Regions from separate parts of the Homo sapiens genome. Here regions 1 and 3 are each linked to region 2. The links come from fine-mapping of genetic effects on gene expression. A gene starts in region 2. Each other region holds a variant in brackets. All regions are shown on one strand. Distances are from middle to middle.

Evidence for each region.
Region 1: its variant is fine-mapped to the expression of MPI in whole blood (TOPMed, PIP 0.92).
Region 3: its variant is fine-mapped to the expression of MPI in whole blood (TOPMed, PIP above 0.99).

The regions. Positions count from the first base shown.
Region 1 is chr15:74,938,746-74,946,924 of GRCh38, forward strand. No RefSeq gene overlaps it. Among named protein-coding and RNA genes, the nearest start is that of COX5A, 4.8 kb to the left of the region's middle. The variant T/C (reference allele first, on the strand shown) is at 3,170.
Region 2 is chr15:74,885,452-74,893,630 of GRCh38, forward strand. It overlaps MPI (mannose phosphate isomerase), which reads left to right and starts at 4,591. Exons shown (of 8, transcript NM_002435.3): 1 at 4,591-4,638; 2 at 5,076-5,203; 3 at 5,928-6,128; 4 at 7,210-7,351; 5 at 7,687-7,869. The coding sequence starts at 4,623. RefSeq lists enhancers at 4,208-4,257, 4,418-4,717, 4,507-5,040, 4,838-4,917.
Region 3 is chr15:74,910,423-74,918,601 of GRCh38, forward strand. No RefSeq gene overlaps it. Among named protein-coding and RNA genes, the nearest start is that of FAM219B, 7.7 kb to the left of the region's middle. The variant C/T (reference allele first, on the strand shown) is at 3,858.

The sequences.
Region 1 (8,179 bases), 53 kb after region 2:
GTGGCATAAAATAAAACAGCGAATGGGGGAAAGAATGCCGCTGGACGCGGTTGCTCACGCCTGTAATCCTAGCACTTTGGGAGCCCAAGGCGGGCGGATCACCTGAGGTCGGGAGTTCGAGACCAGCCTGACCAACATGGAGAAACCCCTGTCTCTACTAAAAATGCAAAATTAGCCAGGTGTGGTGGCGCATGCCTGTAATCCCAGCTATTTGGGAGGCTGAGGCAGGAGAATTGCTGGAACCCAGGAGGCAGAGGTTGCAGTGAGTTGAGATCGCACCATTGCACTCCAGCCTGGGCAACAAGATCAAAACTCCATCTCAAAAAAAAAAAAGGCCTATGCGTAAGGGATTTTATTAGTACATATTCTTATATCACAAACCAGCTTGCATAAAAAATGAGTTAAACTACTTCATTTCACAGATTAGGAAAGAGGCTCAGAAATTAGGTTGCTGCTGGCAGTCAAGGATCTTTTCGCCACATCCCCAGTTCTGAGGACTCTCACCTGAATGTTTCCCATCTCCTACAGGAGGGCTCCTGAATCCACGATGGCTCTGAAATAGGGTTGATCAAGTTCCACAGTTGTTGCATCTTATCTCACTAGCTACATCCTAACTTTGAGCCCCTGGGCAGTCAAGGACACCTCTCCCAGGCCTGAAGTATCTGGATGCTGCCCAGAGTTAATGAGACATTGTATTCTGTCTTGCTGTCTCCCATTCTCTATCCCTGGGCACACTGAGGAAAGAAAAGGTGGCCATTCATGTGCCACTTCCTCACTTCAGGCCGACTCTCCAGGGCCTCAGCATCTGCCCTTCTCTTTTTCCTCCCTAGCAGTGTGGCTTCAGTGGGTAGGAACCTGGCGGGGAAAAGGATTTTTAAAATGTTTTCAAAGCACCTGCCCTCACCGTTTCCCACCAACCTAGTGCTGGGGCTTAGAAAACAATACCACAAAGTGAAGGCCTATGAAGCAGTTTCTCTCTGACCTTCTGCCCTCTTGTCTCTTGCCCCTTACTCTCCCTCCAGGCATGCCACAGAAACTAGAATCCCTCCTCCCCAAGAGGGGGTCTAGAAAGTAGAACCCCTTTGTCCCAAAGCCAGCCATAAAGCCTAAAAATATTGCTCTAACCTTTCTCTTTGCCTTTCTATGTAACAGCTGGCCATAAAGAAATTAAGGCCGAGCACGGTGGTTCACGCCTGTAATCCTAGCACTTTGAGCCGCCAAGGCCAGGAGATCACTTGAGGTCAGGAGTTTGAGACCAGCCTGGCCAACATGGTGAAACCCCATCTCTATTAAAATTACTAACATTAGCCAGAAATCACTTGAACCCAGGAGGTGGAGGTTGCGGTGAGGCGAGATCACACCACTGCACTCCAGCCTGGGTGACAGAGCTAGACTCCGTCTCAAAAATAAAATTTTTTAAAAAAAAGGAGAAAAGGAAACATGGCCAGGTATGGTGGCTCATGCCTGTAATCCCAGCACTTTGGGAGGCTGAGGTGGGAAGATCACCTGAGGTCGGGAGTTCGAGACCATCCTGGCCAACATGGTGAAACCCCGTCTCTACGAAAAATACAAAAATTAGCTGGGTGTGGTGGCGCACGCTACTCTGGAGCCTGAGGCAGGAGAATCACTTGGGCCCGCGAGGTGGAGGTTGCAGTGAGCCGAGATCGCACAACTGTACTCCAGCCTGGGTGACAGAGTGCGACTCCGTCTCAAAAAAAGAAAAAAAGAAGTTAAGGCTGGGCGCGATGGCTCATGCCTATAATCCCAGCAATTTGGGAGGCTGAGGTGGGGGGATCACCTGAGGTCTGGAGTTTGAGACCAGCTTGACCAACGTGAAGAAACCCCGTCTCTACTGAAAATACAAAATTAGCCGGGCATGGTGGTGCATGCCTGCAATCCCAGCTACTCAGGAAGCTGAAACAGTAGAATTGCTTGAACCTGGGAGGTGGAGGTTGCAGTGGACCGAGATCTTGCCACTGCACTCCAACTTGGGCAACAAGAGTGAAACTCTATCTCCAAAAAAAAGAAAGAAAAGACACTCGTTCCAGTAGTAGGGAGGACAGGGAGGAAGAAATGCTACAAAAGAGAGGCCAGAAGGATTTGAACAGACAGGCTTTGCTGGGTTTTCCCACTCAATCCATTTCCGTTAGCTTGGACCCTTTTTGTCCAATCACAATTCTACATATGCTTTATTGAACCTAAGCATAAAGGACGATTTTCCTTGTATCTATGGGTCTTCAGTCTGAAGCCTCCCATGTCACATAAAACTATGATCAAGTAAACTTGTTATGGTTTTTTCTTTTTAACCTGTCTTTTGTTATGGGAGTGTCAGCCATGACCCTTATGATGGTGAGGAAAAGGATCACCCCTTTCTGCCCCTACACTGGCCAAAGGGCAACGGGGAAACCTTTGACCTCTCTGCAGTTCAATTAGTGTTCATCAAATCTCCAAGGCTGGAAGCTTAAGATGAGGTCAGGGTAAGAAAGTAAGAAAAGTAAGAAAAGCAAGTAAGAAAGCACTGGGCTATATTGCTTGAATCCCAGCTGGTCTCCCTGCTGTCAGAATCCCTCCACTTTGCCTACAGTCACTTAGATTGGCTGCTGAAGTGTTTTTTTTTCTTTTTAAAATACAATTATGACTATAATTTACAATGTGCCACTACATGCCACAAACTATTATCCCATTTATGCCTCATAACAACCTTGTGAGATAAGTTTTTATCCCTATTTTCAAAATTTATTTTATTTTATTATTATTCTTTTTTGAGGTGGAGTCTCGCTCCGTCGCTCAGGCTGGAGTGCAGTGGTGTGATCCTGGCTTACTGCAACCTCCGCCTGCCAGGTTCAAGTGATTCTCCTGCGTCAGCCTCCCGAGTAGCTGGGACTACAGGTGCTCGCCACCATGCCCGTCTAATTTTTGTATTTTTGGTAGAGACGCTGTTTCACCATGTTGGCCAGGCTGGTCTTGAACTCCTGACCTCAGGTGATCCTCTCACCTTGGCCTCCCAAAATGTTGGGATTACAGGCATGAACCACTATGCCCGGCCTAGCCCTGATTTATTGATAAAGGAATAGACTTAAAGGATACTTGCCAAAAATCATACAGCTAACAAATAGTGGTAGTTAGGTTTTAGTCCCCACTTGTCTGACTCCAGAAATTGTTCTTTCCC[T/C]ACCACTGCTGAAGGTAGGTTTTGCTTGTCTTTCAGTCAGTTCTGAATTCTCTGCTACCTTGAGAGCAGTCCACAGCCCTAATTGCCTGCATTCATTTTTTGTTGCTGCCTAACAATTTATCAGGTATAGCATAACTGAATTCTCTACTGGTTATCACAAGACTGAAATCAAGATCACGGCTAGGTTAGACATCTCATCTGGAGCTCAGAGGCCTCTTCTAAGGTCATTCAGGTTGTTGGCAGAATTGATTTCATTGCAGTGGTGGGACAAGGTCCTCATTTCTTCTCGGTAGCTGTCAGCCAAGGACACTCTCAACTCCTAGAGAGTGCCCTGATGTCCTCTCCACTTGGCTCTCTCCATAGGCCCTTCTTACAATCCTGGAGCTTATTTATTCCAAGCAGCAGGAAAGTGTCTCTCTGACACTTTACCTGCTTTTAAAGACTTCATCTCAAGGTGGGCGGATCACTTGAGGTCAGGAGTTCGAGACCAACCTGGCCAACATGGTGAAACCCCATCTCTACTAAAAATACAAAAATTAGCAGGGCGTGGTGGTGGGCACCTGTAATCTCAGCTACTTGGGAGGCTGAGGCAGGAGAATCGCTTGAACCCGGGAGGCAGAGGTTGCAGTGAGCCAAGATCTCACCATTGCACTCCAGCCAGGGGTACAGAAGACTCAGTCAAAAGAAAAAAAAAGACCTCACCTGATTAGGTCAAGCCCACCAGGGTAACTTTTTGATTCACTCAAAGTAGACTGACTAGTAAACTAGTCTTGGGAATGATATCTAAAGAAATTCACAGATTCTGCCCCCTACTCAAGAGGAGGAGATTGTACAAGGGCATGTAAACAGGGGGCATGAATCCTGGGGCTATCTTTGAATTCAGCCTACCATATCACTAAGGCACGGGGGCCCTTGCTTGTTTCCTAGTTGGCCCCCAGATGTGTCCACAGGTTGAAGCCCATCCCATTGCTTCTGGAGGGTACCCCTTCCCTGATGGGCTCAGAGCAGACATCCTGGTTCTTACTCAAGGTCTTCAGGGTCTTTTATCTCTTCCTGCCATTTCCTACCTTGAAATCCTTCGCTGTCCCTCTGGAGAAGCCACACCTGGACTTTTGCTTCTTCTTCTTTTTTTAAAACACAACAGCTGGACTTCTGATGGCTCAGAAATGTCATCGTCACCAGTGGATCAGCCTATCAGCTTTCTGCTACAGCTCAGGGCCTTCATTCTGGAAAAGTTGTGATGAGGCAGTCCCTCTGATGTGTGTGGGGGATGGAATGACATTACTGAGGAGTTTGTGAGGATAAAGACACTGTTCCACCATGTGAATTTCTAGTAACGGTTAAGTTCACGTGCAAGAAAAGCTCTTTTTTTTGTTTTTTCTTCTCTTTTCTTTTTCTTTTCTTTTTTATGTTTTTGAGATAGGGTCATGCTCTGTCACCCAGGCTACAGTGCAGTGACAGAATTATGGCTCACTGCAGCTTTGACCTCCTAGGCTAAAGCAATCTTCCCCCCTCAGCCTCCCAAGTAGCTGGGACTACAGGTACGCACTACCATTCCCGGCTAATTTTTTTAACATTTTTGTTGAGATAGGGTCTTGTTATGTTGCCCAGGCTGGTCTCAAACTCCTAGCTTCAAGCAATCCTCCTGCCTTGGTCCCTCAAATTGCCGGGATTATAGGCATGAGCCACCGCACCAGGCTAGAAAAGCTCTTATTTTCTCTGGTGGGAATTAAGCATGTGCTCAGGAAAAAGAGGGGGAAAAAAATGAAAGAATCCTACCATTTTAAGACTGAAAGTGGGGGCCGGGTGCAGTGGCTCAAGCCTGTAATCCCGGCACTTTGGGAGGCCGAGCCGGGCGGATCACGAGGTCAGGAGATCGAGACCATCCTGGCTAACACAGTGAAACCCCATCTCTACTAAAAATACAAAAAATTAGCCGGGTGTGGTGGCAGGCGCCTGTAGTCCCAGCTACTTGGGAGGCTGAGGCATGAGAATGGCGTGAACCCGGCAGGCGGAGCTTGCAGTGAGCCGAGATAGCGCCACTGCACTCCAGCCTGGGCGACAGAGTGAGACTCTGTCTCAAAAAAAAAAAAGACTGAAAGTGGCCCCCGAGGCCATTAGTCTACTGAGTCTACATGGTTTCCATTTCCTCAGGCCCCTACTTGAGGAGCATCTCCAGTGAACAGGATCTCAATACTAGACTGCTTCGAAAACAGAGCCTAATGAAAAAAGTCACCCAAGAGAATGACACCCTCACCGCTATTAAACTACAGTTCTGCCTTATGCCCTTGGGCAAATTATTCCAATTCCCTGAACCACTGTTTCCTTGTCTAAAAAATGGGAATAGCCGGGTGTGGCAGCTCACGCCTGTAATCCCAGCACTTTGGGAGGCCGAGGCAGGAGGATCACCTGAGGTTGGGAGTTCAAGACCAGCCTAACCAACATGGAGAACCCTGTCTCTACTAAGAATACAAAATCCGCCTCGCGGCTTCAAGCGATTCTCCTACCTCAGTCTCCCAAGTATGCCAGCATGCCTGTAATTCCAGCTACTGGGGAGGCTGAGGCAGGCGAATCGCTTGAATCTGAGAGGTGGAGGTTGTGGTGAGCCAAGATTGCATCATTGCACTCCAGCCTGGGCAACAACAACAACAAAAAATTAGCCAGGCATGGTGGCACGCGCCTTTAGTCCCAGCTACTTGGGAGGCTGAGACAGGAGAATCGCTTGAACCTGGGAGGCAGAGGTTGCAGTGAGCCGAGATCACGCCACTGCACTTCAGCGTAGGCGACAGAGCAAGACTCCATCTCCAAAAAAACAAAAAACAAAACAAATAAAAAATGGGATAATAATGGAACCTACCTAATAGGTTAATAGATTGTTGGGACGATTACCTCAGAAAATGCACATAAAACACTATGTCCTGGCTGGTATACAGTAACAGCTCAATAAATGCTTACTGTTGCTCTCTAAAAGAGCATTTTCTTGTTGTAAAATTGTAGCGGGGCAGGGCAAGTTGTGAGATGGGGATGTTTTAGTCTGTTTTGTGTTGCTATAACAGAATACCTGAGACTCGGTAATTTATTTATTTATTTATTTATTGAGACAGGCTCACCCAGGCTGGAGTGCAGTGGTGAGATCTTGGCTCACTGCAGCCTTGACCTCCTGCGCTCAAGCAATCCTCCCATCTCAGCCTCCTGAGTAGCTAGGACCACAGGCATGTGCCACCTCACCCAGCTAATTTTTGTACAGGTAATTTATAATGACCAGAAATGTATTGGCTTATATTTCTGGAGGCTGAGAAGTCCAATATCAAAGTGCTGGCATCTTGTGAGGGCCTTCTTGCTGCATCATCCCATGGCAGAAGGCATCACATGGTGGAAGGGCAGAGAATGCAAGAGGGGGTGAACCCACTCCCTTGATGAACAAATCATTCTTTTTTTCCCCCCACAGGCTGGAGTGCAATGACTCGACCTCGGTTCACCACAACCCCCACCTCCTGGGTTCAAGTAATTCTCCTGCCTCAGCCTCCCAAGTAGCTGGGATTACAGGCATCTGCCACCATGACCAGCTAATTTTGTATTTGTAGCAGACACGGTGTTTCTCTATGTTGGCCAGGCTCGTCTCAAACTCCTGACCTCAGGTGATCCGCCCACCTTGGCCTCCCAAAGTGCTGGGATTACAGGCATGAGCCACCGCGTCTGGCCAAGAACTCATTCTTGCAATAATGGCACTGGTCCATTCATGAGGGTAGAGCCCTCATGACCTAAAAACCTCTTAAGGGTTCCACCTCCCAACACCAACACAATGACAATTAAATTTCGAGATTAGTTTGATTTTTTGTTTCTTTGTCTTGTTTTTTTTAGAGACAGGGTCTCACTCTGTTGCCCAGGCTGGAGAGTAGTGACATGACCATAGGTCACTGCAGCTTCGAACTCCTGGGCTTAAGTGATCCTCCTGCCTCAGCCTCCTAAGTAGCTGGGACTACAGGTGAACACTACTACACCTGGACAATTTTTTGGACAGGGTCTTGCTATGTTGCCAGGCCGACCTTGGACTTCTGGGCTCAAGCAATCCTCCCACCTCAGTCTCCCAAAGTGCTGGGATTATGGACCACATCCAGCCCAGTTGTTTCTTGTGAGTGGCTTATAAATAGACATCTTTTTTCCCTGTTTTCACATGGTCTTTCGTCTGTGTGAACACGTCTGTATCCTATATCCTAATGCCTTTTTTTTTCTTGAGATGGAGTCTCACTCTGTCGCCCAAGCTGGAGTGCAGTGGCATGATCTCAGCTCACTGCAAGCTCCGCCTCCTGGGTTCACGCCATTCTCCTGCCTCAGCCTCCCAAGTAGCTGGGACTACAGGCGCCTGCCACCATGCCTGGCTAATTTTTTTGTATTTTTAGTAGAGACAGGGTTTCACCGTGTTAGCCAGGATGGTCTCGATCTCCTGACCTCGTGATCCGCCTGCCTCGGCCTCCCAAAGTGCTGGGATTACAGGCGTGAGCCACCGCGCCCTGCCTGCTTTTTATTTTTTAAGAGACTGGGTCTGGCTATTTTGCCCAGGCTGGTGTTGAACTCCTGGACTCAAGTGATCCTCCTGCCTCAGCCTCCCCAGTAGCTGGGACTACAGGTTGCGACACCAACCCAGGCTGTGGCAGTTATTTAACAGTGTTTCTCTCCAGAAACATGTTCAAACCATTACTGAAGGTGAAAAGCAAAAGAAGGGGATTTAATTTTGTGTCTCTCTTACCACTGTAAATGTGGCTACATAACATCTCAGAGAATAAACAATCTTGATGAACCATCAAAATCAGCTGAAGATCTTATTACAATGTGTATTCCCAGGTCCCTCCTGGGAGAATCTGATCCTGTTGGTTTAGAGTTTAGCCCAGGTAATCTGTTTTTTGTTTGTTTGTTTCGTTTTCTTTTTTGGTTTTTTGTTTTTGTTTTGCTTTTGAGATGGAGTTTCCCTCTGTTGCCCAGGCTGGACTGGGGTGGCATGATCTCTGCTCA
Region 2 (8,179 bases):
TCTCACTCTGTCACCCAGGCTGGAGTGCAGTGGTACAATCACAGTTCACTGCAGCCTCGACTTTCCAGGCTCAAGCAATCCTCCCACCTCAGCCTCCAGAGTAGCTGGGACTACCGGCATGTGCTACCACCCTCAGCTAATTTTTAAAGTATGTTTAGAGACAGGGTCTTGCTATGTTGCCCAGGCTGGTCTTGAATTCCTGGACACAAGTTATCCTCCGCCTTGGCCTCCCAACGTGTTGGAATTACACGTGTGAGCCACTGCACCTGGCCAAGATATTATTTTCATTTTTTTTTAAATAGTAATGAGATCTTGCTATGTTGGCCAGGTTGGTCTTGAACTCCTGGCCTCAAGCCATCCTTCTACCTCTGCCTCCTAAACTGCTAGGATTACAGGCCTGAGCCACTGCACTCTGTCTTTAGTTGTTGTTTGTTTTTTTGTTTTTTTTTTTATTTTGAGACGGAGCCTTGCTCTGTCGCCCAGGCTGGGGTGCAGTGGCACGATCTCCACTCACTGCCATTCTCCTGCCTCAGCCTCCCGAGTAGCTGGGACTACAGGCGCCTGCCACCACGCCCGGCTAATTTTTTGTATTTTTAGTAGAGACGGGGTTTCATCGTGTTAACCAGGATGGTCTCGATCTCCTGAACTCTATCTCATGATCTGCCCGCCTTGGCCTCCCAAAGTGCTGGGATTACAGGCATGAGCCACCACGCCCAGCCCCTATCTTTAGTTTTTATAGAGAACTAAACATCTTGTGACTCTGGCTTACTTGGGTGGCTGCTTAAGTTACTATTACCTTCTTCCTTGGTGGGTTATTCATTTACTTCCCTAATTGCTGGGTGCAGGGCTAGCTAGTTCCTGAAATCTCCCTTGAAGGGACTCAAAATTTTCCCTTTATCTCCATACTTGCGGGCCAGAGGGGCACCTAAGAAGGGTCTGTCCTCCATATCAATGTCTCTCTGGGCCTGATAATATAAAAGGATGCACATTCCTCAGATAAAATCTCTTTTCTCAAGATAGACCAGCAAGAGGGAAGAAGTAGAAGGTTCTAGGTTCTCCAAACACCCTAGTTTCTCTTACAGATAAGTTTTTCTGTATTGGGGGAGGGTGGCATGGGGTTGGGGGGTGGTCTGTATCTCCCAACAATCTAAGTTCTTCCTTCACTTTGCAGGGATACTATGAGCAAATAACCCTGACTCTGTTTTCTGTGGTAGTGGTAGTGGGGAGTGCTCCAAGAACTCCTTGAGCCTCATTAGTCCCTCGTTCTTATCTGAGAAGGTTCCTATTGCTTGGTGTATTAGTCCGTTTTCATGCTGCTATAAAGATACTACCTGAATTGGGTAATTTATAAAGAAAGGAGGTTTGGGCCAGGCATGGTGGCTCATGCCTGTAACCCAGCACTTTGGGAGGCTGAGGTGGGTGGATCACCTGCAGTCAGGATTTTGAGACCAGCCTGGCCAACATGGTGAAACCCCGTCTCTACTAAAAATACAAAAATTAGCCGGGCATGGTGGCACGTGCCTGTAGTCCCAGCTATTTGGGAGGCTGAGACAGGAGAATCGCTTGAACCCGGGAGGCGGAGGTTGCAGTGAGCCAAGATCGTGCCACTGCACTCTACTCTGGGTGACAGAGTGAGACTCCATCTCAAAAAAAAAAAAAAAAGGAGGTTTGGCCTGACGCGGTGGCTCATGCCTGTAATCTCAGCACTTTGGGAAGTCAAGGCAGGTGGATCACCTGAGGTCAGGAGTTCGAGACCAGCCTGGGCAAAATGGTGAAACCTCGCCTCTACTAAAAATACAAAAATTAGCCGGGCATGGTGGTGTGCACCCAGCTACTTGGGTGGCTGAGGCAGGAGAATCACTTGAACCTGGGAAACAGAGCTTGCAGTGAGCTGAGATCATGCCACTGCACTCCAGCCTGGGCAACGGAGCAAGACTCAATACTCAAAAAGAAAAAATAAAAAAAAAGAAAGGAGGTTTAATTGACTCACAGTTCTACATGGCTGGGGAGGCCTCAGGAGCTTATAATCATGACAGAAGGCAAAGGGGAAGCGAGGCACATCTTAGATGGCAGTAGGAGAGAGAGCGAGAAAGTGCCACACTTTAAAACCATCAGCTCTTGGGAGAACTCACTCACTATCATGAGAACAGCATGGGGGAAACCACCCCCATGATCCAATCACCTCCCACCAGGTCCCTCCCTCAACATGTGGGGATTACAATTCAAGATGAGATTTGGGTGGGGACACAGAGCCAAATCATATCACTTGGGTAGTGGAGATGAGGGAAAGGAGTGGTATTCCAAAGCACGAGGTATTGAGTACGTTGTTTCATGAGTCTTTTTTTTTTTTATTTATTTTTTATTTTTTTATTGATCATTCTTGGGTGTTTCTCGCAGAGGGGGATTTGGCAGGGTCACAGGACAACAGTGGAGGGAAGGTCAGCAGATAAACAAGTGAACAAAGGTCTCTGGTCTTCCTAGGCAGAGGACCCTGCGGCCTTCCGCAGTGTTTGTGTCCCTGGGTACTTGAGATTAGGGAGTGGTGATGACTCTTAACGAGCATGCTGCCTTCAAGCGTCTGTTTAACAAAGCACATCTTGCACCGCCCTTAATCCATTAACCCTGAGTGGACACAGCACATGTTTCAGAGAGCACAGGGTTGGGGGTAAGGTCACCGATCAACAGGATCCCAAGGCAGAAGAATTTTTCTTAGTACAGAACAAAATGAAAAGTCTCCCATGTCTACCTCTTTCTACACAGACACGGCAACCATCCGATTTCTCAATCTTTCCCCCACCTTTCCCCCCTTTCTATTCCACAGAACTGCCATTGTCATCATGGCCCGTTCTCAATGAGCTGTTGGGTACACCTCCCAGACGGGGTGGTGGCCGGGCAGAGGGGCTCCTCACTTCCCAGTAGGGGCGGCCGGGCAGAGGCGCCCCTCACCTCCCGGACGGGGTGGCTGGCCGGGCGGGGGGCTGACCCCCCTACCTCCCTCCCGGACGGGGCAGCTGGCTGGGCAGAGGGGCTCCTCACTTCCCAGTAGGGGCGGCCGGGCAGAGGCGCCCCTCACCTCCCGGACGGGGCGGCTGGCCGGGCTGGGGGCTGACCCCCCCACCTCCCTCCCGGACGGGGCGGCTGGCCAGGCGGGGGGCTGTCATGAGTCTTGTATTATCCATTTTATTATTCCTTAGTGCATGGTAAAGCTTCCTTTAAAATGCAAGCTGATTTATTTGAGCCAGAGGACCCCAGGGGAGGTGAGATAGATACCCACACCTGGGCAGAGGATTACAGGGAAAACGGCACCCGCTCTTTCCCCTGGGCACATATGGTAGAGGCTGTGGGAATGAGGGTATTGCAGGGGTGATGAGGGTAGAGTCAGGACTGTAACTCCTCATTCCAGGTTCCCCGGAGCTTTGACTGTTGTGCTCCTAGCCTCAAGCAATCCTTCTGCCTCTGCCTCCTAAGGTGCTAGGATTACAGGCCTGAGCCACTGACTGTCCTCCTCCTAGGAGGCTGTTGACTGAGAAGGTCTGGATGTCAAAGCCTTTCACCACAGGATATAGCCAAGATTACTGCAGAGCCAAGGCCCAAGGCCATCCTTCCCTATGCACAGCTCTTCGTAATTCCCCTGACTTCTGTGTGTGCAACTTGTAAGCAGCTCAGCCTGGAGTAGAAGTTGGGGTTCTGACTTTCTACAGCACCTGGGACGGGAAGGATCAGAGGAGCACAGGGAGCTGACTGCCTTATAGGTGTCTCACGTCATCCCATCTGACCCTCCAACAAGCATGTCAGGCTGGCATTATTCACCCCATTCTACAAAGCTCAGAGCAGTGAAGGGCCTTGCATGTGACATTTACCATCATCATCACTAGTATGTCCCTACTCACATCACAGCAATTCTTTGCTCAAATCTGTAATTGCTGAGACTCGAAGTAAAACCCAAAGTCTTCACAATAGCAATAGCCTGCAAAGCTCTGCCCCCCTCCTCTCTTCTCTGACCTCCTCACTGCCCCTGTCTTACTCACTCTGCTCCAGCCACAGTGGCCTCCTTGCTAGCAGTTCCCTCCCCAACACGCCCGGCACAGTCCCACATTCCCGCCTTGCTCTGGCTTCCGCTGTGGCTGTTTCCTCCCCGCAGAACACTCCTGCCTTCCTCACCGCCAAGTCTGGACTCAAACCTCACCTCCTCAAGAGGCTTGCCCAGACAGCCTTTTATATTCTGCAAACTGCCTCCCACTGCCACCTGCCCCCTTACTTTTTGTGGCCTTGACCTTTCAACATACTACATGATTTGCTTACAATACTTGTCTGTCTTGCCTTCACCAGAATGTAAGCGCTCTACAAAGGCAGAGGGAAGGCTATCTTGCTCTCTGATGTATCCTCCAGCCCTTAGAACAGTCCGTGGTACTTAGCAGGTTTTCAGTACATCTGTGCCCGGCGATGGAAAGAATGAATGAATAGTGAGACCGAAGATCGCGGCCGTAAGCCTCTGGGCACGGGTGCCCCGGGGCCTGGCGGAACGCTCAGGGAACTACATTTCCCGTGAAGCTCTGGGCGCAGAGGGCCGCGGGGGCTGCCGGGAAAGGCATACGTGCTTAATCCTGGTGCAGGGGGCGAGCATGGCCGCTCCGCGAGGTGAGCCATTGGCTGGGGTGTCGGCGAGTGTGTTCGTGGAGCGCGTCCTGGGGACGACTCCCGGCATTATCGGCCAGGTTGAGTCCGCTCCTGGCATTCCGCGGAAAGATGGGTGGGTGCCGGGCAGAGGTGTGGCCACCTGCGATGGGGATTGACCTCCGAGGGGAGGGGGCCCTTCTAGACGTCGTGCCGTGGGATAGGTACCTTCTGCTCCCTCCCCGCCACCCTGCCTCAGATCAGCACAAGGTCCTTACTGCTGCCCATCTGACAGTTGGGAACATCGAGGCCTGCAGCGGAGGGGGGTCTCATCCAACAGCCTACAAAACCCTTATTTGACTCTGTCCCCAGTGAGCACCCCCAGCTCTTGCCTGGTTTCCCGGGACACTAGGGTGGGGCCTGAGGAGTGGAGTGGCAGCTGACCCTGTCTGTGCCCCTAGTATTCCCACTTTCCTGTGCGGTGCAGCAGTATGCCTGGGGGAAGATGGGTTCCAACAGCGAAGTGGCGCGGCTGTTGGCCAGCAGTGATCCACTGGCCCAGATCGCAGAGGACAAGCCTTATGCAGAGGTGAGCCCCGGGCTGTATTTCAGCCCACTTTACCCGCAGGTCAGGAGAAAGGGCCTGAGGCAAGTCATAAGAATCAGCTGGGAAGGGTGAGGCAGCAAGGAGGGAGGAGACCCACTTGGCTCTTCAGGCTAATGGACTAGATAGTGTTATCAAAAAGAAGAGAGGTTTTGTCATAATAGGCTGGGATTTCCAGCACTCTCCTTCCCCCAACCACTCTTAGCACTTAGTGAATTTTAATTCAGCCCTCTTTGACAATTAAGTTTTTTTACTTTGACTATTTTTTTGCATTTTTATTAACCTAAAATATTTCTCCTGCCTATTTAGTGGAGAAAAAGCCAAAGCATAGGAAGGCTTTCGCCTCTGCTTCTGAAACTGGAAGATGTATGTTAACCCCTGAAAGAATCATTTAAGAGTCATAGTTTTTCTGCTACCTTGACAGTGCAGATGTCATTCTCCTCTTTGGACAGACAAAGAAGATACATCTAAAGAAGGGAAATAACTAGTCCAAGTCTTCATAGATGGCTAGAGGCCGAGTCTGGACAAGGGCCTGGGTCTACTGCCTCCCTGTATGTCCATGATGGCATGAACATTTGTATCCAGACCTGGGAGGCCTTTCCCAGGACTCAGTTGCCCTGTGGGGAGCACAGCATAACGGATTGGGACAGGCCAACTCAGGGTGGCAGGTTTCTTCCCCCTTCCCCTCCCAAGTTTCCTGTCTTTCCAGTTGTGGATGGGGACTCACCCCCGAGGGGATGCCAAGATCCTTGACAACCGCATCTCACAGAAGACCCTAAGCCAGTGGATTGCTGAGAACCAGGACAGCTTGGGCTCAAAGGTCAAGGACACCTTTAATGGCAACCTGCCCTTCCTCTTCAAAGTGCTCTCAGTTGAAACACCCCTGTCCATCCAGGCACACCCTAACAAGGTAAAGGACAGAGTGCGGTGCAGAGGTCAGGGTACAGAAGGGCTTATGCTAAGGCCCTCCCGTGACTTTTACTGCCACTTTTACCCCACCCATGCCAGGCTCCTGCCCAAGGCCAAATCCAGGCTGACAACTCCCAATTTAGCTCTGCAAAGCCAGATGGTAGTGACACATGCAGCAACTAAGTCTAAGCAAACAGCTCACCGGCCTGTGCCAGGGGAGTTTCTCTAAGCTCATTCCAAGGGGCTTGTTCCTGGTCTTCCCTCATCCAACCCATGTCTATTCATATCTGCCATTTACTCATCTGCTTTCAGGAAGAGTTCAACTTGCAAGGCAGGGCAGGTACCCTCAGCCCCACCCCCATGGAGTCTCCCTACACAAGCCGGAGTCCCATCCTAAGCAACTGTGGATCAAAACTCCTTTTTTTTTTTTTCTGAGACTTGAGTCTTGCTCTGTCGCCCAGGCTGGAGTGCAGTGGCGCGATCTCGGCTCACTGCAACCTCCTCCTCCCAATTCAAGCAATTCTTCTGCTTCAGCCTCGCAAATAGCTGGGACTACAGGCACGCGCCACCACACCCAGCTAATTTTTGTATTTTTAGTAGAGATGGGGTTTCACCATGTTGGCCAGGCTGGTCTTGAACTCCTGCCCTCGTAATCCGCTCGCCTCAGCCTCCCAAAGTGCTGGGATTACAGGCGTGAGCCACCATGCCCAGCCAAAACTCCTTATTTCTAGATACACAAAGTAAGACCCAGAGAAGGGAGGGATTTACCAAAGCCACACAGCTTGTTAGTGTCAGAGCTTGGTCTGGTATTTGGGTTTCCTGATTCACAGGCCAAGCCTCTTAAAGTCTGCCCCAGCTTTTCCCTGATTTGCCCCGGGGTTGCCCCTGATTTGCCCCTGCCCTGGGTTGGCTGAGCCCCAAGTTTCTGCAACATGCTTTGACTGGGCTCCTTGCCAGAGGTAGGTAGTCACTGCCATCCTGCAACTGGGGAGGGTGGACAGCAGGGGCTAGGTGGCACTGGTGTACCTGCTAGGTAATGGCTGTACCCTCACCATCCTCCTCTTCCCCTGGCCACCCCACAGGAGCTGGCAGAGAAGCTGCACCTCCAGGCTCCGCAGCACTACCCCGATGCCAACCACAAGCCAGAGATGGCCATTGCCCTCACCCCCTTCCAGGGCTTGTGTGGCTTCCGGCCAGTTGAGGAGATTGTAACCTTTCTAAAGAGTAAGTTGGGCAGAATGCTGAAGGCATGCGTACTGGGCCAGGGATACCTGGGGAACCAAGATGATAGGAACAGTGGCTGAGAACGGGTCACATGTCACAGGAACTGAAGGGCCTCATGAAGCAGTTTTTGGAGCCAGTGAGCCAGGCCAGTGAGACCAGGCTCAGGTGTGGTAGTCAAGGGCTGGTGGTGAGTGATTGGTTTCCACTGCAAAGTTTACTTAGCATTGCCGGCTCTTTGGTTAGGGCTGGGATGGAAAGGTGTCCTCCAACTCCCCACTTGTGTGGGTTCCATCTTACCATTCCTGATATGGGCCCTGGGCCTTGCCTTCCTGTAGAGGTGCCTGAGTTTCAGTTCCTGATTGGAGATGAGGCAGCAACACACCTGAAGCAGACCATGAGCCATGACTCCCAGGCTGTGGCCTCCTCTCTGCAGAGCTGTTTCTCCCACCTGATGAAGAGTGAGAAGAAGGTGGTGGTGGAACAGCTCAACCTGTTGGTGAAGCGGATCTCCCAGCAAGGTGGACACAGTTATATTCCTGGTTGGGTGCAATGCTCTGGCCTGGGCTTCCCAGCAGACACCAGACTCTGGGGACAGTTCTCAACCCCCTTGCCCAAGTGGAACACTAAAAGGGGCCCCACTTAGATGACCTGTTGGCAACTTAGCATTGCTTGCCTAGTCTTTGTGGAGCAGGGCCCTTCTTAGTTGAGTGCTGCTTCCCAACTGGTCATCTTCTCCAGATGGTTGGAGGCAGACTGGCATAGAGGACTCTTAGGATGCCTTCCACCTAGGCATTCTGAGATTTTCCCTAGCCCTGCAGCTGCCCTCCA
Region 3 (8,179 bases), 25 kb after region 2:
TAATGATGACAAATAAGGTATCTCCCAGTTCCCAGTCTTATTTCTTTGTTATTGGGGGGTAGTGAATCCTCGGGGAGAGATTATTGGCTGTTAGGAGCAAGGACTACTACCCTGGCTTTTGGAACCCTCATTGGGCAGTTACTCTTTATCCCTGGCTCTAAATCTAAGTTATTCCCTAAACTTTCTTGGTCCTGGGACAGATACATCTCCATCATCAGTTGAGAATTCTGGTTCTGCTGTTGACTGGAGCTGAATTCCTTCATACAGGCAAGTATCTGGGGTTAAACATTAAAAGGGATGGAGGACAGAGATTTTTTTTTTTTATCCTGCTACTTCCCTTTCAAGCTCTCTTCCATCTCAGAAGCCACTGTCTCACCAGGTTGTGGCCTCTAGCCCAAGGAACTTCTCTCATTATTGGTAGAGTACAGATAACTAGATAGGACCTATGAATCTGCAGGTCTTTCTGGGTTCCCAGGTTACCAGACCCACCATTGTCCTCACAGTTATATGCAAAGGTATGGCCACAGCTGTGGCGGGCTGCTGTGGCTTGTCTCCACCAAACCCCATGTTTAAATTTGATCCCCAGTGTTGGAGGTGGGGCCTAATAGGAGGTATCTGGGTCATGGGGGTGGATCCCTCACGAATACATTAATGCTCTCTCTGAAGGTGGTAAGTTCTTATTCTATAAGTTCCTGAGAGAGCTGGGTTTTTAAAAAAATATCAATTATATATATATAGTGGGCCATAAAAACTATCTCTGCGGCCAGGCGCAGTGGCTCACGCCTGTAATCCCAGCACTTTGGGAGGCCAAGGCAGGCGGATCACAAGGTCAGGAGTTTGAGACCAGCCTGACCAACGTGGTGAAACCCCATCTCTACTAAAAATACAAAATTAGCCGGACGTGGTGGGGTGCGCCTGTAATTCCAGCTACTCAGGAGGCTGAGGCAGGAGAATGGCTTGAACCCAGGAGGCGGAGGTTGCAGGGAGCCGAGATCGTGCCACTGCACTCCAGCCTGGGCAACAGAGTGAGACTCCGTCTCAAAACAAACAAACAAACAAACAAACAAACAAAAACTATCTCTGCTTTCTTGAAGTGTGGATTTAGCCAAGGAGCCAAAAAACAAAAAAACATAGCAGTGGAAATTTACTAGTTATAGGGATAGTCTTAGATATATATTTATGTGTGAATATATATTATCTGTATAGATAACTAGGTATTAATGTCACATAAGATGGTGTGACCACACACACACACAAACACACGTGCAGAGAGAGGGAATTCAGCCACGTGGTGTAGGTTGGTTAATTACTTGAGATAAATGAGAAGCAGGCAGGTCTGTGCTGAGCTGTGTCATCAGTGAAGATCACACTTGGAGGTGACATTGAAGCTGATTCCTCAAAGAACCACGAAGGAGGCACGTGGAGACCCAGACAGGGAACATCAGAGGCTCCAGAAAGAGCAGGTCCCAGAAAAGTCTCAGCCTGTTCTTCAGAAAGGAATGACCACTTTGTCTGTGGGGTATAGTGGGAGGCAGAGGAGGAGATGGAGCTGAGATTCAGGGCCTTGGTGGATTCAGAATAGGTCAGGATAAACTGGCCAGGAAAAGGTGGCCCCACCATCTCAAGAGAGTTAGATATTAAAGAGCCTGGTATCTCCCCTTCCTCTTGCTTCCTCGCTCACCAAGTGATTTCTGCTCAAGCCTGCTCCCCTCTGCCTTCCGCCATGAGTGGAAGCAGCCTGAGGCCCTCACCAGAAGCTAAGTAGATGCCAGTTCCATGCTTCTTGTACAACCAAAACAACCGTGAGCTAATAAACGTTTTTTTTTTTTAGACCAAGTTTCACTATTATTGCCCAGGCTGGAGTGCAGTGGCATGATCTCGGCTCACCCCAACCTCCACTTCCCCAGTTCAGGCGATTCTCCTGGCTCAGCCTCCTGAGTAGCTGGGATTACAGGCATGTGCCACCACGCCTGTAATTTTGTATTTCTAGTAGAAATGGGGTTTCTCCATGTTGGTCAGGCTGGTCTTGAACTCCTGACCTCAGGTGATCCGCCCGCCTCAGCCTCCCAAAGTGTTGGGATTACAGGCGTGAGCCACTGTGCCCGGCCTAATAAACATTTTTTGTTAAGAGATGGGGTCTTGCCTTGTTGCCCAAGCTGGAGTACAGTGCTGTGATCATAGCTCACTGTATCCTTGAACTCCTGGGCCCAAGCAATCAGTCCATCTCACCTTTCTGAGTAGCTGGGACTATAGGTACATACCACTGTACCTGGCTAGTTTTTAAAATTTTTTTGGTAGAGATGGGGGTCTCACTATGTGGCCCAGGCTGGTCTCGAACTCCTGGCCTCAAGTAATCCTCCTGCCTTGGCCTCCCAAGGCACTGGGATTACAGGCATGAGCCCCTTTACTTTAAAAATTACCCAGCCCCAGGCCGGGCGCAGTGGCTCACGCCTGTAATCCCAGCACTTTGGGAGGCCGAGGCGGGTGGATCACAAGGTCAAGAGATCAAGACCAACCTGGCCAACATGGTGAAACCCCGTCTCTATTAAAAGTATAAAAATTAGCTGAGCGTGGGGGCGGGCACCTGTAGTCCCAGCTACTCGGGAGGCTGAGGCAGGAGAATCGCTTGAACTCGGGAGGCAGAGGTTGCAGTGAGCAGAGATCACGCCATCGCACTCCAGCCTGGGCGACAGAGCGAGATGCCGTCTCAAACAAAACAAACAAAAAAAAGTTACCCAGCCTCAGGTATCCCTTTACAGCAACACACTAAACCCGTTTAAGACAAAGGCCAAGCCCAGCACAGAGTCATCTCACTTGGCGTTCAACCAAACTTCTCCAATGCAGCAAAATGGCAAACTAAACAATGTTACTGCAAAATGTGACTATAGACTAATAGGCTCTGCTGCTAAGGACAAGCTCTCTGGCATCCAGTTAAACAAACAGCCAGGAAAAACTGAAGTGATAGTTAGCAAAACTTAGGAGAGAATGACTAGGCTTAAGCCATTTTCCCAAGCACAACCAAAAAAATGATTATAACAAATAGAACATAATCTGCTAACCTTTCATTCTTGTTATATCCTTGTGAGGTGGCTCCCATTTTCAGATAAGGAAACAAAAGGACAGAAGTGTAGGCAACATATACACAGTCATATGACTGTTATACAGTAGACTGGGATTTATACCCAAGTCTGAATCCAAACCCCATTTTCTCATCTTACTGCTACATTATGCTGCCTTCCATCAGCTGGTAGGTGTATGTAATAAAAAGACATGAGGACAAACTGACATCATGTCCCTCCTGAGGGGATACAATTGGAATTTCACATAGTATTTTTGCCAAAAATGTTTAGCTGGATTTGAATAATTAGGAAACAGACACAGGCAGATTACAGGACATTCTACAACTGGCCTGGACTCTTCAGAAATATGAACTGTATGTATTTGATGCTAAACTTATTATTTTTTTTTTTTTATTTTGAGACGGAGTTTCACTCTTGTTGCCCAGGCTGGAGTGCAATGGCCAATCTTGGCTCACTGCAACCTCCATCTTCCAGGTTCAAGCGATTCTCCTGCCTCAGCCTCCTGAATAGCTGGGATTACAGGCATGAGCCACTACGCCCAGCTAATTTCTGTAGTTTTAATAGAGACAGGGTGTCTCAGTGTTGGTCAGCCTGGTCTCGAACTTCTGACCTCAGGTGATCCACCCGCCTCGGCCTCCCAAAGTGCCAGGGTTATAGGCGTGACCCACTGCGCCTAGCCTGATGCTAAACTTCTTGAAATAGAACAGAATTGTGTTTATGTAGGAGGCAAAAGTCCTTTTTCTCAGATTTTTGCTGAAGTATTCAGGGGTGAAGTGA[C/T]GTGTGTAGATATATAACATATAAACAAATGTGACAAACTATTAATTGCTTTGAAATTTATTTTCTTTTTTTTTTTTTTTTTTGAGACGGAGTCTGGCTCTGTCGCCCAGGCTGGAGTGCAGTGGTGCCATCTTGGCTCACTGCAAGCTCCGCCTCCCGGGTTCATGCCATTCTCCTGCCTCAGCCTCCCGAGTAGCTGGGACTACCGGTGCCCGCCACCTCGCCTGGCTAATTTTTTGTATTTTTAGTAGAGATGGGGTTTCACCGTGTTAGCCAGGATGGTCTTGATCTCCTGACTTCGTGATCCACCCACCTCGGCTTCCCAAAGTGCTGGGATTACAGGCGTGAGCCACCGCACCCGGCCTGCTTTGAAACTTAATTAAAACAAACTGTAGGAAAGAAAAAGGCTAGAGACCCCATCCTGTTAGGGTAGAAGCCCTGTCCATCCAAGTCAAGCTGTGGAAGGATCCTCATATTTACCATCTACTTCTTTTGTTTGTTTGAGACAGAGTCTTGATCTGTCGCCAGGCTGGAATGCAGTGGCACGATCTCGGCTCTCTGCAACCTACGCCTCCCAGGTTCAAACAGTTCTCCTGCCTCAGCCTCCTGAGTGGCTGGGACTACAGACGTGCACCACCATGCCCAGCTAATTTTTGTAGAGACGGGGTTTCACCATGTTGGGAAGGCTGGTCTTGAACTCCTAACCTCATGATCCGTCCGCTTCAGCCTCCCAAAGTGCTGGGATTAGAGGCGTGAGCCACTGCACCCAACCCATCTACTTCTTTAGGTAGAGCTAGGATCCATCAAGCTAAAAGATGTACCTACTTTTTTTTTTTTTTGAGATGGAGTTTCATTCTTGTTACCCAGGCTGGAGTGCAATGGCATGATCTCGGCTCACCGCAACCTCCGCCTCCCAGGTTCAAGCGATTCTTCTGCCTTAGCCTCCTGCTGGGATTACAGGCGCTCGCCACCATGCCCAGTAAATTTTTTGTATTTTTAGTAGAGATAGCGTTTCACTGTGTTGGCCAGCTGGTCTCAAACTTCTGACCTCAGGTGATCCACTCACCTCAGCCTCCCCAAGTGCTGGGATTACAGGCGTGAGCCACCGCGCCTGGCCAAGATGTACCTACTTTTTCCAGCACAACAAAGAAGTTGATTCAATTTGCCTAATGGGTGTGTGTGTGAAGAAAGTTTGATGAGACAAATTCACCAGTAGATTGAATTTATCTAGTCACTTTTGCCTTCTAGTAACATGCCTTGTGATTTTTGTAAGTTTGCTTCTTGTGAAAATTATTTCTATTATTTTAGAGTAAAGGTGGGCAAACTTTCTGTAAACAGGCAAATAGTACTCTCTGGTCCAACTACTCACTATGTCATTTTAATGCAAAAGCAGCTATAGATAATGCACAGTGTGAATGTACCTAATGCCACTGTACTGTAAACTCAAAAATGGTCAAGATGAGGCCAGGTGCAGTGGCTCATGCCTGTAATCCCAGCACTTCGGGAGGCCCAGGTGGGCGGATCACGAGGTCAGGAGATTGAGACCATCCTGGCTAACACGGTGAAACCCCGTCTCTACTAATATAAAAAATTAGCCGGGCGTGGTGGCTGATGCCTGTGGTCCCAGCTACTCGGGAGGCTGAGGCAGGAGAATGGCGTGAACCTGGGAGGCAGAGGTTGCAGTAAACCGAGATGGCGCCACTGCACTCCAGCCTGGGCGACAGAGCGAGACTCCATCTCAAAAAAAAAAAAAAAAAAAAAAAAGGTCAAGATGGTAAATTTTATGTATGATCTTACCATAATTTACTAAAAGGCAAAAAAATAAGCCACAGATAATATGTAAATGAATGAGGGCGTGTGACTGTGTTCCAATAAAACCTTATTTATGGACACCATATTTGAATTTATTATTTTTTGAGACAGAGTCTTGCTCTGTCGCCCAGGCTGGAGTGCAGTGGCATGATCTCGGCTCACTGCAACCTCCGCCTCCCAGGTTCATGCCATTCTCCTGCCTCAGCCTCCGGAGTAGTGGGGACCACAGGTGCCCGCCACCACGCCCGGCTAATTTTTTGTATTTTTAGTAGAGACGGGGTTTCACCATGTTAGCCAGGATGGTCTTGATCTCCTACCTTGTGATCCACCCACCTTGGCCTCCCAAAGTGCTGGGATTACAGGTGTGAGCCACCATGCCCGGCCCATATTCTGAATTTCATACAGTTTTTATATATTATGAAAAATTTTTTTTTTTTTGAGTCAGAGTCTCGCTCTGTCGCCCAGCCTGGAGTACAGCAGCATGATCTCGGCTCACTGCAACCTCCACATCTTGGGTTCAAACGATTCTTCTGCCTCAGCTTCCCGTGTAGCTGGGACTATAGGTGCGTGCCACCATGCCCAGCTAATTTTTATATTTTTAGTAGAGACATGGTTTCACCATATTGGCCAGGCTGGTCTCGAACTCCTGACCTTGTAATCCACCCGCCTCAGCCTCCCAAAGTGCTGGGATTACAGGTGTGAGCCACCGCGCCTGGCCGAAATATTTTTCATTGATTTTTCAACCATTTAAAAACATACCAGGCCGGGCACGGTGGCTCACGCCTATAATCCCAGCACTTTGGGAGGCCGAGGCAGGTGGATCGTTTGAGTCCAGGAGTTTGAGACCATCCTGGCTAACACGGTGAAACCCCGTCTCTACTAAAAATACAAAAAATAAGCCAGGCGTGGTGGCGGGCACCTGTAGTCCCAGCTACTCGGGAGGCTGAGGCAGGAGAATGGCATGAACCTGGGAGGCAGAGCTTGCAGTGAGCCGAGATCATGCCACTGTACTCTAGCCTGGGCGACAGAGCAAAACTCTGTCTCAAAAGAAAAACAAAACACAAAAAACCCATACCAGCCTGGGCAACGTGGTCTACAAAAAAATACAAAAATTAGCTGGGTGTGGTAGCATGCATCTGTAGTACCAGCTCCTCAGAGGCTGAGATAGGAGGATTGCTTGAGCCCAGGAGGCAGAGGTTGCAGTGAGCTGATACCACACCACTGTACTCCAGCCTGGGTGACAGAGCAAGACCCTGTCTCGAAAAAAAAAAAAAAAAGTAAAAATTCCTAGAGCACCCCAGGTGCAGTAGCTCATGCTTGTAATCCCAGCACTTTGGAGGGTGAGGTGGGCGGATCACTTCAGGCTAGGAGTTCAAGACCAGTCCAGCCAACATGGTGAAACCCCATCTCTGCTAAAGCTACAATAAATTAGCCAGGCGTGGTGGCACATGCCTGTGATCCCAGCTACTCAGGAGGCTAAGGAAGGAGAATCGCTTGAACCTGGGAGGCAGAGGTTGCAGTGAGCCGAGATTGTGCCACTGGACTCCAGCCTGGGCAACAGAGCAAGACTCCGTCTTAGAAAAACAAACAAACAAACAAAAAACTTACCAGAGTACCCGTTTCCTTCTAAGGGTATACATGAGTGAATCAGATAAAATAAAATGTTGAAATCTCAACCTTACCTAAGATACAAAGGAGGCCAGCTGTGGTGGCTCACGCCTGTAATCCTAGCACTCTGGGAAGCCAAGACAGGCAGAGAGCTTGAACTCAGGAATTTGACACCAGCCTGGGCAACATGAGACCAAAACCACAAAAATTAGCCATGTGTGGAGGTGCACGCCTGTGGTCCCAGCTACTCTGGAGGCTGAGACGGAAGGATTGTTGGAGCCCGGGAAGTCGAGGCTACAGTGAGCCATGATCACATCACTGCACTCCAGCCTGTGTCAGAGCAAGACAGTCTCAAAACAAAACAAAAACACATTAAAAAAAAAAAAAAAAGCAAAGGCAACAAGAATCACTTTCCATCTACTAGTTCTATCCAGCTACAAATAAATCTTCTGCTTGTAAAAGAAAAGCCAATGCCTCAACCCTCACCATCTTTCAAATCACTCTCATTGCCTAAGATCACTCCTTCGCCTCCTGCAGTTTGGCCTCAACCGCCCACAAAAACATGGCCAAGAAATTAAAATTTCTTGAGCATCTGGCTGGGCGCGGTGGCTCACGCCTGTAATCCCAACACTTTGGGAGGCTGAGGCAGGCAGATCACCTGAGAGGTCAGGAGTTCGAGACCAGCCTGGCCAACATGGTGAAACCCCATCTCTACTAAAATTACAAAAATTAGCAGGGCATGGTGGTGCATGCCTGTAATCCCAGCTACTTGGGAGACTGAGGCACAAGAATTGCTTGAACCCGGGAGGGGGAGGTTGTAGTGAGCCGAAATTGGGCCATTGCACTCCAACCTGGGCAACAGAGTGAGACTCTGTCTTAAAAAAAAAAAAAATTTTGCTGAG